Linked DNA regions of Homo sapiens: region 1 is linked to region 2. Evidence: fine-mapped expression QTL. A gene starts in region 2. The other region holds a variant in brackets. All regions are shown on one strand. Distances are from middle to middle. Region 1 overlaps NEK1 (NIMA related kinase 1). Region 2 holds the start of NEK1 (NIMA related kinase 1).

The links.
Region 1: its variant is fine-mapped to the expression of NEK1 in whole blood (INTERVAL, PIP above 0.99).

Annotation. Positions count from the first base shown.
Region 1 is chr4:169,487,738-169,493,121 of GRCh38, forward strand. The region is part of intron 23 of NEK1 (NIMA related kinase 1); the gene reads right to left. Among named protein-coding and RNA genes, the nearest start is that of NEK1, 120 kb to the right of the region's middle. The variant G/C (reference allele first, on the strand shown) is at 2,545.
Region 2 is chr4:169,610,245-169,615,628 of GRCh38, forward strand. It overlaps NEK1 (NIMA related kinase 1), which reads right to left and starts at 2,339. Exons shown (of 36, transcript NM_001199397.3): 1 at 1,978-2,339; 2 at 1,776-1,899. RefSeq lists enhancers at 1,812-1,931, 2,352-2,411.

The DNA.
Region 1 (5,384 bases), 120 kb before region 2:
CACTGTCTTCCAAAATGGCTAAACTAATTTACACTCCCACCAACAGTGTAAATGCATTCCTTTTTCTCTGTAACTTTGCCAGCATCTGTTGTTTCTTGATTTTTTAATAATTGCCATTCTGACTGATGTGATATGGTATTTCTCTGTGGTTCTGATTTGCATTTCTCTAATGATCAGAGATGTTGAGCTTTTTTTCATGTTTGTTGGCTGCATGCATGTCTTCTTTTTAAGAAGTGTCTGTTTATGTCCTTTGCCCATTTTTTAATGCGTAAAAATGGACATTTTTGTTTTTTTCTTGTAAATTTGTTTAAGTTCCTTGTAGACTCTGGATATTAGCTCTTTGTCAGATGGATAGATTGCAAAAATTTTCTCCCATTCTGTAGGTTGTCTGTTCACTCTGATGACAGTTTCTTTTGCTGTGCAAAAGCTCTTTAGTTAATTAGATCCCATTTGCCAATTTTTGCTTTTGTCGCTATTGCTTTTGGCATTTCATCATGAAATCTTTATTTGTGCCTGTGTCCTGAACGATACTGCCTAGATTTTCTTCTAGGATTTCTATAGTTTTGGGTTTTACATTTACATCTTTAATCCATCTTGCGTTAACTTTTGTATAAAGTTTAAGGAAGGGGGATCCAGTTTCAATTTTCTGCATATGACTAGCCAGTTCTCCCAGCACCATTTATTAAATAGGAAATCCTTTCCCTATTGCTTGTTTTTGTCAGGTTTTTCAAAGATCAGTTCCGTGTAGGTATGTGGTTTATTTCTGAGTTCTCTATTCTCTTCCATTGTTCTATGTGTCTATTTTTGTACCAGTACCATGCTGGTTTGGTTACAGGGCAGTGATTTTTATCCTTTGTTAGATTGAAAATATTATACTTTTGAGAATCCAAGGAAATATACGTGGTTTTACTGAAGAAAATGCACCAACATACATACTGCCAAACTTTACATTAATATTTTAGGGGGCTTAATAATGCTAGCTTCAATTCTGAATTCCATGTTAACCACTCCTGAGTAACGGTCAATGAGTAAAGATAGATATATGAACACTACCCCCCAATATAACATCTAGATTATGCTATATTAGACTTTCTATTGAAATAATAGTTAAATAACTTTAATCAATTTTTTTTTGTATATTAAGCTGGATCTAAATACTTACATTATGGATACTATTTTTCTATACAATTTAGATAGAGCAACATTAGAGAATATGCCCTTCATCTAGACGAGGAAATAAAGGCCACAAACATTAAGTCAATCTTCAAACAAGCTAATTAATTGGCAAGGCTGAGACCAAAATCAGGTATTCTGATTCCCAGTCTCATTTTTTTCCCACTATACCAGTGTGCATTAAATAAACAGATGTTTCCTGAACATTTCCTTATGCACAGCTCTGGAATATCATGAGACACAGAATTCCCAATGAATTTATTTGTGTTACTATTCACCAGGTACCATGCTGAGCATTTTACGTGGTAAATCAGTTAAGATTCTTTGGTTGAAGGCAATAGAAACTAACTATAGAGGGGCGGAGGGAGGGAGGGAAGGAGGCAGCTAGGTAGCCAGGCAGCCAGGCAAGGAGGGTGGTGACATCAGCAGGATGGCAAATTACAAATGCCTAATGCTCTACCCTCTGCCCCACAAAAAAGGACAAAAACAATGAATTGATAACTGCATTTTGACCAGAGTGACTTAAGAATGTCAGAGAATAGCAAGGGAGTGGCAGAAACCCTGTGAAGCACAGGCTAAGTATGGCCATATACAGAAGGGTGGAGTCATTGTTGTGCTATTCCCTTCCCCAATGCCTAAGTCACAGCTGTGCCCCACCATTCATGGGCCCTTGTTGCTGCTGTACCCAGCCTCACAAAGTCTGGTCCATTGCTATGTCCTGCCATGCCAGAGTCACCACTACAAGGAACCTCCTCTCCTGGTGTCCAAGTTGCCACTATGCCCTACTGGCTCCAGAAACTGAAGTGCAGTTATGCCCTGCTCCCTAGGGTCCAAGCCTCTAGAACATCTCTTCTTCTCCAGACCCATGCCAGTGCTGTGCCCTGACTCTCAGGATCAGAGTCACAGCTATATCCCTGCTACCTGGGCCCAAGCTACTGGGGAATGCCTTAGAGTCAGTCCCCACCTTTGTAGAACAGCTTCATCTACCCATACCTCAGAGAGTGAACTTGTACTCAAGTCACAAGTATCATAGTAATTCAGGAAGACAGTGGGCCCAGGACCCTAGCACCACTGTAGGCTGCTTGTGAGCTCTGCCAAATCTGACAACAAGAAGGATTTCCCCAACAAAGTCTCCCCACGGTACGATAAACAAGAGCAGGAGGACCCCCACTAAAGCCCTTGTCACTGAGAATCCTAATAACCTATGCTGCTACCACTGCTGTCACACACTCCTACAGTCATGGCTAAAGTACCTGCAGCCATTACTCAAATTGATTACAACTGAAGGAGCTGCATGGACACTACACTACCGTGCCTACCTGGAACCAGAGGCAGAACCTCTGCCCTTGAGCCACTGCACCACCACCCACA[G/C]AGCCAATGCACCCTGCTCAACTGACCCCCTAGCAATCATCTATAGGTAAAATCATCCCCTACAAAAGCAACTCTATAGATTTGGAAGAGGTCACTGATCCACTAGATGTGCAGTTATCAATGCAAGGACACAAGAAACATGAAAAAGCAGGAAAACATGACACCATCAAAGGAATAATTCTCCAGATAATGACCCCAAAGAAATGGAAATTTACAAATTACCTGATAGAGAAATCAAAGTAATGATCTTACGGAAACTCAGGGATATACAAGAGGATAGACAATTCAATGAAATCAGCAAAATAATCCATGATATGAATCACAAGCTCAATAAAGATATACATAACACAAAAAGAACCAAACAGAAATCTTGGGGCTGAAGAATTCAATGAATGAAATTGTTAAAAACTGAGAGCTTCAACAGCAGACTAGATCAAGCAGAGGAAACAATCTGTGAATTTGAAGATAGGTCTTTTGAAGTTGCCCAGATAGAGAAAAAGTGAAGAAAGCCTATAGGAATTATGGAACACCATGAAAGGAACAAATGTCACAGTATGAGCTCTAGAAAGAGAAGAGATGAGGCCGGGCATGGTGGCTCACGCCTGTAATCCCAGCACTTTGGGAGGCCAAGGCGGGAGGATCACGAGGTCAGGAGATCAAGACCATCCTGGCTAACATGGTGAAGCCCTGTCTCTACTAAAAATACAAAAAATTAGCCAGGTGTGGTGGCATGCGCCTGTAGTCCCAGCTACTTGGGAGGCTGAGGCAGGAGAATCGCTTGAACCCAGGAGGTGGAGGCTGCAGTGAGCCAAGATTACGTCACTGCACTCCAGCAACAGAGGAAGACTCCATCTCAAAAAAAAAAAAAAAAAAAAAAAAAAAGAGAGATGGAGAAAGGCACAGAAGGCTTTTTAAGTGAAGTACTTGCTGAACACTTCCCAAGTCTTGGGAGTGATATGGTCATCCATATCTACAGAAGTTGAAAACTAACAAACAGGTTCAATGCAAAGAGGTCCTCACCAAGGCACTTTATAATTTAAAACATTAAAAGTAAAAGACAAAGAATTTTAAAAGCAGAGGGAGAAGAGCATCAAGCAACATACAAGGGGCTCGCCATTAGACTATCAGCAGATTTCTCAGCAGAAATCTTGCAGGTCAGGAGAGAATGGGATAATATACTCAAGGTGCTAATTAAAAAAACCCTGCCAGCCAACAATACTATACTTAGAAAAGCTGTTTTTCAGAAATAAAATAGAAGTAAAGTCTTTCCCAGATAGACAGAAGCTAAGGGAATTCATCACCTCTAGAACTGATTTACAAGAAATGCTTAAGAGTTCTTCAACCAGAAACAAAAGAACAATAACTACTACCACAAGAACATATCAAAGTATAAAACTCACTGGTAGAGAGGTATTTATATATATTCAAATTCAGAATATTCCATTACTGCAACAATGGTGTGTAAATCTCTCAAATTGCTATTATAAAGGTTAAATGTTGAAACAGTAAAAAACAACTGTAATTGCATTAAGTTGTTATGAAGTCCAAAATGTAAAAAGGTATAAACTGTGACAGCCAAAATAATTGTGAGGAGGGTAAAAGTCTAGAATATCTTCATGTGACAAAGTTAAATTGTTATCAGCTTAAAATAGTCTATTATTACTATAAGATGCTTTGTGTAAGCCTCATGATTAACTACAAAGCAAAAAACTACAGTAGATACACAAATGAGAACGAGAAAGGAATCAAAACTTAGCACATAGCACAAAATCACAAGAGTAGACAATAAGAGAAGAAGAAAGGAACAAAGGACCAAAAAACAACCAGAAAACAATAACAAATGCAGTAGTACGTGCTTACCTATCAATAACAATCTTCAATGTAATTAAGCTCTCCAATCAAAAGATTTAGAATGGATGGAAAAATAAGATTCAGACGCTGCTTCAAGATTGTGACTACGGACATCTCATGCCCGTTCTCCTCAGAAGGAAGATCAAAATTACTGGTAAATCATCAAGTTTTGACAAGGAAACAGAGGGAACAGAGCCAGGACCTGTTGGAGTACCCACGTGAAGAAGATTGGGTGGAGAGAAAGAAAGCAGCAAAAGTCTGGTTGATAGCGACCGCTGAGGAACTCAGAGTCCAGCAGAAACTGTAGGTGGGAGTGTGTCTCTGCTCCCCTCACCCCTCTGACAACACACTGGCTGCTAAACAGCTGGGGAGCCCCTCAGCCCTTGCAAGCCAGGGCAACACTATCGGTGGCGATTAGAGGACTTCCTGAAAACAGAGAACTGGGTGAGCAGCTGACTTAGCCATGCTGCACCCACCTCTGATCCAAACTGAGATGGCAGTTGTCATACCAGTTGTGTACCTGTGGTGCCACTCCCCTTGCTTGTAGATCCTCTGCCCTTGAGCCACTGCACCACCACCCGCAGACATACTACACAACCTACTCTGACTTTGGCAAGTACATGACACCAGCAGATTCTCAGGGAGTTTGGGGTCTCCCACAGATTGAACACTTGGCACAAACTGCCCCTCAAGGAGGAGACAGAGCAGCCTGTCAAAGCCACCAATGGGAAACAGGAAATGTGGGTGCAGCACTAACCACTGAAGGGGGCAGCGCCAATGCCTCGGAACAAACGTGGAGAAGGGGGTCATCTCTCACCTTCTCATCTCGCCAAAGTGCATGATTGTGGACATGGCAGCAGTTCTTTCTGTTGGGGCCCAATGGCCCTTTCTGGGCTTCTCTGGTGGCTCGATGAAAGTGAACAGAGCCTAAATAAATCTGCTGTATCTTACTCTTCGGCACCATCTACTGGACTGCAGCCTGAATTACA
Region 2 (5,384 bases):
ACTTGCCTCGGCTTCCCAAAATGCTGGGAATACAGGTGTGAGCCACAGCGTCTGACCCAGAATTTCTTTCTTTTTTTCTTTTTTCTTTGAGACAAGCCTCACTCAGTCGCCCAGGCTACAGTGCAGTGGCAGTATCTCGGCTCACTGCAACCTCTGCCTCCCGGGTTCAAGCAATTATCCTGTGTTAGCCTTCCAAGTAGCTGGGATTACAGGCACGCACCACCACGCCCGTCTAATTTTTTGTATTTTTGGTAGATATGGGTTCGCCAGGTCAGCCAGGCTTGTCTCAACCTCCTGACCTCAAGTGATCCACCCACCGTGGCCTCCCAAACTGCTGGGATTACAGGTAAGAGCCACAGCACCCAGCCACTAAGAATTTCTTTAAAGCCACAAATAAGCAATTTTGGACATAATAAAATTTTGTGAGCCACATATAAACAATTTTAGAGTATATGAATGGAAAAGCTCAACTTCGATCAATCTGGAACACATACTTAGGTTAAGCATTAAGCTCTCATCAGGTGTTTCAGATATTCTATAGACAGGCTGTCTTGAAGGGAAACATGGTAAAGGCATGGCAACAGGTTTCAAGAAGTCTTTTGGCGCTGTATGCAGCTACAATCCATACATACAGTTCTGCCTAAGCAATAAATACCATCTTGAATAGTGGGAGGGGATCCATTTATCTTCTCAGGAAAAAAGTTCTTTATCTTCCTTTATTCGAAAAAGCAGAAAGCAAAAATGGAATTTCTATTAGACTTTTTTCAAAATATTTTTTCTTCTCTGTAAGTCTATTCAGACAATATTCAACAGATTTTGTAGTAGAAACTACCAACAGGTAAATAAAGAATGTACATTCGTGAAAAGGTGTCATGTTCATGACTTAGACTAGAAGGCAGGAGATTAGACAGGGCAAAATTTACTTGGAATACAATGTCAATGTACTATTCACACGACCTCAAAAGAACTTCTGTGGTCAAGTCCGACGACCTTTATTAAATTCCTGACAGTGACTTTTAACGTGAAAAAAACCTGTTTTCCCACAAAATAGGCTCCTTACATTTCACCTAGAACAATGGATATTTTAAGTGAAACAGATCTGTAGAACCTCTAAAACCAGACAAATGTAAACTAGAAACAAGGAGTTACTTCTCTCCAAATTTGGCTCCCCTCCATCAGCTCTACAATACTGCTGCATCATAAAAAAAGGTCATTAACTTAGATTGGATGCCACTTTTAATCCTTCATAAACATTTCTAATGAAACATACCAAGGCAATAAAAAATATTTCTGCTTCCTAAAGCAGATCTTAAAGAACAAAAAATAGGCCTGCAAAAAAAGTTATGATAAACTCTTAAAGTAGTACAACAATTAATGCCTTACATATGGAAACTGTGTCAAATCATGGAAACAGAAATCTAAGATTACAGGGTAACCAGCTAACTACTACTCATATTCGCTTCCTAATTAAAATTTATCAGTAATTTAAGATTGGACACAACATAAGCAATGCAAATGCTTGCTTATCCATACTAAGATTCCTATTATTTTAATCCCATTACCGCTCTAGTTTTTAAAAATACCGTAATGTCCAAGAATCGCTTTGTTAATACAGAGTGTCTTAGAGAATTAACATTTAAATGAGATTAAGGTATTTTCCCTGCAAACACTTAAGGTATCTGTGTAATCTCAATATAAGCAGTTCTACGCACATCTCATTTCCAGGATGATTTTTACCATTTTGCATGTCATTCCTTCCCCCAAGTGGAACTCACCTCAGTGACACAGGACGTTAGTAGGAATAACGGTGATGACTAATAAGCATCAGTCTAGGTGTGGCAGTCTTCCTACGGGGCTTAATAAAGCAGAGGTACCATCCCGCATTTTGAAAATGACATCCTGAAAGAGAAACCAAGACTGTCTAACCAGCAGCAGCTCACAGTCCAGACTGAAAGGGGGCACTGAGACTCTCCACACCTGACACTCGTCTTCAGTTGATACCACGGGTTTGACTCCGTCCTGTCTCGGGCGACGCCCGTAAGACAGGTCGACACTACCCCGACGAAACAAACAAACTGGTTTCTGAGCCCCGTAGAAACGGCGGGGTGCAGCAGGGGGAGTGCCTCCGTTACCGCCTCTCCAACTTCACAGAGGTCGTTGCTAGTGGCCACGGCGGGGTGGGGACGGGCGGCGTTCGGGACTGGGAAGCTACTTGACTGCCACGTGCTCCTGCCTCGCAACAGCGGCTCTAGATTCCGAGTTATGGGGACAACTGCTCGAGAGGCCAGGGTAGGGTAAGGACTCCGCAACCTAGGGTCCCAAAACCCTGGAGCGAATGCGGACTAAGGGAGAGCGGCCGGCGCGTCACCGGCGCTGGCGTGTGACGTCAGCGCGTGGAAGGCGGCACGCAGCGGAGGCGGCTGGGAAGGAGCAGTGAGGCTGGGCTAGAACCGTAGGGTCGGGCGGGGTGCTGTGCGAAGGGGCGGGCGGGGTGCTGTGCGAAGGGACGGGAGGGGCGGGCTCTGCAGGCGGGAAGACAGAAAGGACGAGACGGGAGAGATGAAAAGGATGGAGAGAGTGTAAAGCTGTTAAGAGTCATGCAGAGATGCGGGAGAGAACTCACTAGTTGAAACCAATTTGGAATATAAAGCATATAAAATTTTCCCACAGCTACTACACCGAGAAAGGGACTTTTTTATTTTACATGAAAGCGCACTACTTAGGGATGCCACATTTTAAAGAGCAATTTTGCTTTAAAAAGCAAGTCTTTTCCTATTATATCTTGGATGGTTGAAACAGAAGAATGTTTAAGTCTTGAGATATTTTTAAAAAGCTGTATGGGGTTTTCTACACCTTTACATCTAATGTATGTATAAATTACTTGTCTGTATGTTGAAGGGTTTGGAAATGTACAGCAGTCTAAGTACATTTTTTCACTGCAGGACTGGCGAAGGTAGGAAGAGATTCCCCTAAAACTATAATAAGGGATATCATCTGGCGTCATCCTGAGTGGCCCTACTCAGGGCAACTTTATTCCTAGGGACATTGAAAGATTTTGGCGGCTTTGCCAGACGATGGCGCTGCAAGTCACCCAACCTGAAAAGCTGGAGAGTTTGTTTTATCTCCTCTTCAATCGCCATACAGCTACAAAAGACTTATTTTCCTCATTCTTTCTACTTCTAGTCTACACTCCTGTGGGCCCTCCTACCCCCAGTTAGTAGGAATTATCATGTCTGAATGCACAATTGTAGTTCTACCCACATCCTTTTGTACATCAAAGTGAAGTGAAATGTTGCCAATTACTAATCTAAGCAAATTCTTTTTGCTGCTTACAGGAAGAATGGCTAGTCAGCTAACCTCCTTAGATAATTCTTTAGGCTCATGTCATAAACTATTGGTAGGACTACAAACTGCTACAGTCTTTCTAGAAGGTATGCTAGCAGTATGCATATCCTTTGACTCAGCAATTTAACTTCTGGAACAAGTGAGCAATGATTTATATACAAGGATAACCGTTATTGTTTATAACCAGAAAAACTAGAAATACTGTAAATGTATAACAATAAAGAATTGATTAAATTATAATATATCCAAACAATGAAATACTCTAAAGCCATTTAAAAGAGTAATCAAGATCTACTTTATTGACATACAAAGATACCATTGATATATTGATGAGTAAATAAAGCAGGTTACCTAAGAAGATTACCTGATTTCCCTTTCTGGTTTATATACCCCTGTACAATTGATTTTTTTTTTTATTTTTAAACAAGAGTGCTTTGGGGTTTCTTTTTCTTTAAATATTTTATTGGACTTTTCTTTCAAACAAAAAAGTTTTTGCTTCTTGCAACAAGCCAGTAACACAAGTACACAAAGATAAAGCCTATCGTCTCCTTCCCAGAGCTCTTCTGTGCTGTCCTCCACGAAACCAATGTTAACAGTTAATTAATATCATCTACATTTTTCTCTAAGTTCCTAAAAACATAAGCATGCATTTTTATATTTTATATATTAGTCTTAGTCTTTTATTTACTTATTTATTTTGGAGACAGGGTCTCATTCTGTTTCCCAAGCTGGAGTGCAGTGGCGCGATCTTAGCTCCCTGCAACCTCCGCCTTCCAGGCTCAAGTGATTCTCCCACTTCAGCCTCCCGAGCAGCTGGGACCATGGGTGCGTGCCATCACACCTGGCTAATTTCGGTATTTTTTTTGTAGAGATAGGGTTTTTGCCATGTTGCCCAGGCTTCTTGTGTGTGTGTTTTGTAGAGATGGGTTCTACCATGTTGCTCAGGCTGGTTTTGAACTCCTGAGCTCAAGTAATTCTGCCTGCTTTGGCCTCCCAAAGTGCTGGGATTACAGGCGTGAGCCACTGTGCCTAGCCGGGACTATAGTATACATATTATTTTGCAACGTACATTTTTAAATTTAATAGTATATGAACATCTATGCGGATATCAACTAATTCTTGTGAATGATATTGATATTTCATGATATGGCTATACCAAAATCTACTCCATTCAGTAGACATATTGTTTCCAATGGTATAATTACTTCTGTGGGATAGATTTCGAAAAGTAGGTTTGCTGGGTCAAAATGTATGCATATTTTTTCACTTTAACACTCCTATGTCTTGGTTATGAAAATTTCTTAACTCCTTATTAATAGTGGTAGTACAATATAGTAAATGGAAGGGGACTAGCAGTATACCTAAGCTATTCTACTAGATTTTTCAGAAATATATTCTGCCATGCATTCACAATTAAGCACTATATGTTAGATGATGGGGACAAACATATTCAAAGAATGGATATTGTTATTCCTTCTTTCTAGAAAGCAGGCAGCAAGGTGAAACAAAATAGAGAATAACAAATTAGAGCAAATGGTTGGTATAGAACTACACTATTTTCCCTTTGTGAAATTATTATGTAAATGATTTTATTAAGACTATGTATTTATGAAGGCATAAGTTCTGATTATACTCACCTAAAATCTTTTTTTTTAAATTATACTTTAAGTTTTAGGGTACTTGTGTACAACATGCAGGTTACATATGTATACATGTGCCATGTTGGTGTGCTGCACCCATTAACTCGTCATTTAACATGTTAATGCTAACCCTCCCCCCTCCTCCCACCCCAGAACAGGCCCCGGTGTGTGATGTTCCCCTTCCTGTGTCCTTGTGTTCTCATTGTTCAATTCCCACCTATGAGTGAGAATATGCATACTTACCTACAATCTTTTGTGATTAGAGAAGGGCCTAAAATACTAAATATGAAGAAAAGCATTCTCTAAAATCCAGATCTTTTACAGACATGTAATATTCAAATCCAAGGGAGAAAAAAAAGTCAATGTCTTGGCATTTAGTACTCCATCTTGCTACATTCT